Homo sapiens: one gene and its partner. The protein of the gene in region 2 purifies or fractionates together with the protein of the main gene of each other region. This does not show direct contact. Each region holds a gene or a part of one and is shown on either strand. Other genes may lie near its edges.

Region 1 (4,175 bases), on a different chromosome or scaffold from region 2:
TTTATGTGCTATTAATAGTTACATAGGTGTGTCTGGTTTGTGAAAATTTATTAAGGTAAAGCAAAAGTTTACTACAACATGATAGAATTCAGTGGTGTAAAAACCATTAGAATTTCATATTCAAGAAATTATAAGTACAAGTTTACATTAATTTAACACTGGTTTGAACACAGAGATTAGCCAATCTTTCACTTTGTAGTGTTATACAGCAGAAGTCAATACTTACAGTAAATTTAGCTCTTTCTTCCATCACTTCATAACCCAGTATAGTAGGTGTAGATGGTCTATCTTCCCAATTCACTGTTTCCGGATTTTGTTCTTCAGTGTCTCTTGGTCTAGTAGAATACTCAATGGAAGAAGCTGTACCTGTAAATTTAGTCCTAATGAGGGGACTGCTACAGACAGATGAAGTATTATCCATTTGATCAGGAACACTTGTCTGTTTAAAATTACCCATATTTGAGTCTTCTAACTGGCCCTTAGAAGAATTTGAGCTTGTTGAGACACTGCCAAAAGAAGAACTTCTTTGATTTCTGTTTGTTGTAAAACTGGAAGCAGAGTTTCCTATGGGCATAGGAACTGGGACATAAGGAGTTGCCATCTTCTTTTGGCTTTTCCAACAAGCTTGCACACTGTTGAGTCCACTTAGAGAACAACTAATATGCAATCCATTATTTTCTTCTTAGGAATTCACTATCTAAAAATGAAAAGGACATATTAAAAGGTTAGTCTTTAATGTGCAGCAGGATTCAAAAGAAAAGTATTCTTTTCAATTTTATGACACTATTATTTTATTTGGAATGAAAACATACCTCAAACCCCTTCTCCCAGTTGTCTTTAAGGACTCCTATTTGCAAGATAGAGAGAGCAAAACTACTTCACACTCTTTTTCCTTGACTCCATGTTACATGTTATCCCTTTTTCCTCTACTTTATTCCCTTGTGAAGTATTTCTGTAAAGTTCATTTTAACCTGATTTCATGTATGTAAAAGTTGGTAGGAGAAAGATTGGTAAAGACCCTTCTGAAGCTTTATTCCATGCTTATCATCTTGACAGTACTACATTCAGTACAAGAGAGAAAAAAGAAAAGGAAGAAAACTATTTACATTACCTCTGGATTTAATCAGAAAGGGAGGAAATCTATTCACATTACCTTTCAATTTAATTAGTGAAACTATAAAGATTTACACAGAGTAGTAACAATGAACCAGATGCTTTGATGCTACATAGTATAATTCTATAGAACCCAGGATTAAAAATACACACTTGGTCAAGTTACTCAAATAAAACCCAGTGAACACTGAACTTATATGCAACAAAATTAAATAGTGAAAATTGTAACCGTTCTTCACAGCTTACAGGTCATCACTAATTCTGCTCTACGATAAACTGAGGGTATTTAAATCTTTATAACTTACACTCAAGAATCTGTTATCAAACGGACCAGTATATCTTGTGTCAGAATAGTATCATAACACAAAGAAGAAATGGTTTACTATTACTTTGTTAAATAATAAACTCATAAGAAACTGTAACAACTACAGACCAACAAAATGACAAGACTACACACAACAATAACTGCCCAACTTTTCATACGAAACTCTACTGGTGGGAAAGGTAAGAAATGAGTCACCTGGACTTGGAAAGATGCTGAAATAAGATTTTTAACTCTGGGCTGGGCGCTGTGGCTCACGCCTGTAATCCCAGCACTTTGGGAGGATGAAGCGGGTGGATCGCCTGAGGTCAGGAGTTCGAGGCTAGCCTGGCCAACATGGTGAAACCCCGTCTCTACTAAAAATACAAAAATTAGCCGGGCATGGTGGCGCAGGCCTATAATCCCAGCTACTTGGGAGGCTGAGGCAGGAGAATCGCTTGAACCCGGGAGGCGGAGGTTGCAGTTTGCCGAGATCGTGCCATTGCACTCCAGCCTGGGCTACAAGAGGAAAACTCCGTCTCAAAAAAAAAAAAAAAAAAGATTTTTAACTCAAGTGGCTCTCGGCAACATTTCCCCATTATCAAAGATTCATGAAACTTTAGCTGCTGATTCACCGCTCCTCGGTTCCGCCTGACGGCCTCCCCAAAAACAAGTAAGTCTGAAATCTCAACCTTCTCAAGGTCCGAGGGATCTACCTGGCCTTTGCCACTCTACTACCTGAGGCCGCCTGGCTGGGGGGAGGTCGCATATCAATACATATCAACACAACCACTGACGTCCGAAGATGTGAGCGCTACCCAAGCGTTAAAAAAACAAAACAAGCAAACAAACAAACAAAAAAACGTGCTGTGCTCATTAGGAGCGTCTTCGCCTCTACCCTGATGCGGAGTTGCTCCCAGGACGCTCAGTTCATTCTCACTCTGGAAAACCTCAGGTGAGGTGGCCCGACTCTGAGCAACCCCGTGGGCGGGAGGAAAGAGGCAAATACCAGGCACAGTTCGACCCTCGGAAGGTAAGGCCGGGGTCTGCGCCGGTCACGGGTCTTCCGCACTGCAGGCGGCGAGACCCGCAGCTCCCTGGGATCACAGACTCTCCCGCCTCCGCTGACCGGTGCGCGCCCAGCGCCTCCCAGACGCACAGTGGGGTCGGCGGTGGCCTGAAGGTGGCTGGGCTTCCTGCGGCGCCTCTCCACTCTCCCGCGGAGCCCCTTGCCGCCCGCCAGACATCAAGGTTGCAGGTGTCACCCGTACGAGAACCCGGGACAGCGACCGCCTGTCCTGAGGTAATGACCCAGTCTTTACCTCAGCCCCCTCGGCGATCCCGAACGAGCGCGCTTCCCGGTGACGGTTAAACCGGACTCTCCTTAACCGCAGCTTTTCGCCTCCTCCCTCAGCAGCGAGAAGCCTCACGTGACACCCCCGCCCCAAAAGCAGCTGCTCCCCGCCTCAGCCAGTCTCTGCCCGGGCCCAAGATCCCTGCTGTGTGGAAGGAGGGGCCGAACTGGGCGGGGGGGGGGGGGGGGGGAGAGAGAGAGAGAGAGAGGGAGGGAGGGAGGGAGGGAGGGAGAGAGAGAGAGAGAGAGAGAGAGAGAGAGAGAGAGAGACAGAGACAGAGAGAAAGAGAGAGAGAGAGGGCAAGAGCGAGAGACAGAGAGAGAGAGAGAGAGAGAGAGAGAGAGAGAGAGAGAGAGAGAGAGAGAGAGAGAAAGAGAAAGAAAACGAGCGAGGGAGAGAGCGAGAGCGAGAGAGAGAGAGAGAGAGCGTCACACACACATCTCTGCCGGAAGTGATGTCACGGCATGGGCGCCCGCCCACCGGAGGAGCGACTGGAGTTGATCGGCTGGGCGCTCAGGTAGCGAAGATAAATGTAATCTTGTGGCAGGAAATCGACATTCTCTGCACTATCTTTAGTTTTCCAACTGAACTTCTGAGAAATGGAGGCTACAATACCTAGTTTGCCAAACAGGAGAAGACTACAATTCCCAGAAGGAACTGCGACCAACATTGGTCCGTGCTCATACTTTGCATCATGGGACTTGTAGTCATCACCAGCTTGCGCTGATTCTAACAGGTTATAGATTGTTTTCTAGAATTAGCAGCGCTTTAAGGGATGACAATCGATTAGAAGAGTAGGAAGATAGAACACTGCTTAGTAGCTGATCCGTTCTACATAATTCAGAAGTTCTCATTGGCAGAGAACCCCTGAAATTCTGTAGTGTCTTTTTACTATCCGGTGAGCAATTTGATCCCGATGATGGAATATTAGCCTTGTTAGACATGCGCTTCTGAAGACCTGTGCAGTAGGGAAAGCCGAGTTTTTTGATAGGCAAATCCCAAGATTCAGACCGGTCTACAGGTCTGTTCATCATTAGAATCAGATAATGTGGTTGAAAAATCATTCCACGATTTCTAAGGCTTTTGTATAGTCCCAATGTTACCCATGGAGGGTCTTGACTACAAGTCATCCAGGTTCTTGGTTTTTTTAACAAAGAATTGGACAAAACGCACAAAGAAAGCAAGGAAAGAATGAAGCAAGGAAAGCAGAGATTGAAATGACTGTACACTCCACAGAGTGGGAATGGCCTCCAGCCAGTGGCTCAAGAGCCCTGGTTACAGGATTTTCTGGAGTTTAAATATCCGCTAGAGATTTCCCATTGGTTACTTGGTTTACACCCTCTGTAAATTAAGGAGTAGCCTGCAACCAATCAGAGGCTAAAGTTAAGTTACAAAGTTGTACTCCT
Region 2 (2,364 bases):
ATTTGCTCTCCAGGGCCCAGCACAGGCTCCTGCATGTGCAGTCACCTTGTTTTAGACACAGCCTGAGGTCTGTGCTGGTTCCTGACCAGCTGTGTGGGCCCCTATCAACCTTGAAGGGGTATGGAGACTAAAGCCATGGGTGCCCATCTCTAACACCCTTCTGGAAAAGACTTCCAGCTGACAGAAATCTCCCACCACAGTCCCACACCCAGCACAAGGGAACCAGGCAGGCTCAGGGATACGAGGCCCGCTAAAATTCATCAGCACTTGGTCTGTCCATGCAGTTCCAAGGGTTTAACACACACACACTTCTCACACCAAATGCATGGGGGTAGGGTACTATCATCATCTCCCTTTTGTAGATGAGAAAACCAGAATAGATGAGACCAAATAACTTGCTCAGCAGATGCAGAGGGTAGAGAGTGGAGCCAGGAATCAAATGCAGGAACCTGGCTCCTGGGCCTGTGCACTTAAAAGATTATGCTGGTCTGCTTCTCGGAAGTATTGATAACAGTTCCCTCTCCGTTTTTTAGCAAAAAATGTGTGTGGGGAGGAAATAAGTAATCAAAACTGTGGGAATGGCTAAATAAATTATGGCAGGTCAACCTCATAGAATACACGTGTGTACAATCCATCATGGATTGTAGAATGAAAAAAATACCATCCACACACGTAAGAGATCTGAGTTTTATAAATCAATGAAAGAGTACTTACACAGGTATATGATGATGAACATAGTAATATGTGTGTATGTGTGTGTGTTTGTGTGTGTATCATGTGCTGGCAAACATTTTCTGTAAAGAGCCAGAGAGTAGATATTTTCAGTTTCCAGCTTGGGGGCTATTTGATCTCCGCCAAAACTACTCAATTCTGCCAGTGCAGCACAAAAGAAGCCCAGACAATACATGTCCAAATGAACATGGCTGTGTTCCAATAAAACTTTATTTTAAAAAAACAGTTGGGAGGCCATATTTGGCCAATGGCCACAGTTTGTTGACTCCTGGTGTAAAAATATGAACGAGACTAATGGTTGGCACTAATTATGGAGAGGCTCACTATAGATGGTGGAGATGGAAAGGGGGGGCAAGCTGAGCTAATCCTAAAAGAAGAGAAAATCTGTAATATAAAGATCAGTAAACATTATAGAATCTCATTTATGCATTTACCAAAAATGCACATTCATGTGTATGTATAATAAAGGAGTTAATCATTGTTGATACAACCTCATTATATAAATATTCAATAGGGAATAATTTTTATAAAAACAATTAGATTAGATTCTCTTAAAAAATAACTCATCTGCTTACATCTCCTGCTATGCAGTGAATTCTGCAGCAAACCCCACTGCACTGAGGGCATACATACATACATACATACGCATACATACACATATGCTGACCAGACCATATACATATGTCTGCATATGCATATATATACATACATAGATACAGAAATATACGTACATACAGGTTGGGTATTCCTAATCTGAAAACCCAAAATCTGAAACTTTTTGAACTCTAACATGACGCTCAAAGGAAATGCTAATTGGAGCATTTAATCTTGGATTTTCAGATTAGGGATGCTCAACCAATAAATATAATGCAAATATTCCAAAATCTGTAAGTATCTGAAATCCAAAATGCTTCTGATCCCAGGCATTTTGGAGAAGGGATACTCAACCTGTATATAATAATATGCTTATATATTATATATATGCTTATATACATAAGGCGCACACACACACATAAAATATTGTCCTATCATGACTGTGTTGGCACTTTAAAAATATTGATATCCCACAATAAACAGGGTTATCATTGATATAATTTCCCACATATTTTACTATAAATAATCGAGTAACAACCTGTCTTGTACCATTCTTTACAGAAAGGCTTTTCTCAATGCGTTAGTCAGGGTTTCTTCCCGGGGAGAAAATTTATAATCCTTAATGAGGCCAGTACTCAGAAGGACATTTCTGCTTACTCTTTTCTCTGTAATTGCCCTCACTAAAATAAAGCATGACTTTTTTATCATGTGTTCACACATGCAGTGCATCCCTAGAGTTTTTCTGAAGCATGAATTCAATAACATATAATTAGACCTGATTCTGAGAAGATTTTCTCTTCTTCAAGAAACTCGGAGTATATTTCATTTATGAATATGCTGATGCACTAGGAATTCATTGCTTGGTAAAGCCTTTCACAGAATAACTGCATTTGTAAGATTTGTCTCTGGTATGAGTTGTTTGGTGTTTATTGAAGTTTGACCTGTTGTTGAAGGCCTTTCCACATTCAGAACACACATAAGGTCTTTCTCCCGTGTGAATTCGCTGATGCACCTTGAGTTGTGGTTTCTTACTGAACG

The links.
Region 1: the proteins of ZNF175 (region 2) and SNX16 purify together in Homo sapiens (affinity purification with mass spectrometry; one large-scale study listed by BioGRID and IntAct). This does not show direct contact.

The regions. Positions count from the first base shown.
Region 1 is NC_000008.11:81,839,386-81,843,560, forward strand, and holds the start of SNX16 (sorting nexin-16), read right to left. Parts: upstream 2,801-4,175; 5' UTR 2,737-2,800; exon of another isoform or gene 2,153-2,736; intron 1,059-2,152; exon of another isoform or gene 813-1,058; intron 698-812; 5' UTR 602-697; coding exon 227-601; intron 1-226. UniProt on the Homo sapiens protein: May be involved in several stages of intracellular trafficking. Plays a role in protein transport from early to late endosomes. Plays a role in protein transport to the lysosome. Promotes degradation of EGFR after EGF signaling.
Region 2 is NC_000019.10:51,588,283-51,590,646, reverse strand, and holds part of ZNF175 (zinc finger protein 175), read right to left. Parts: coding exon 2,180-2,364; 3' UTR 1-2,179.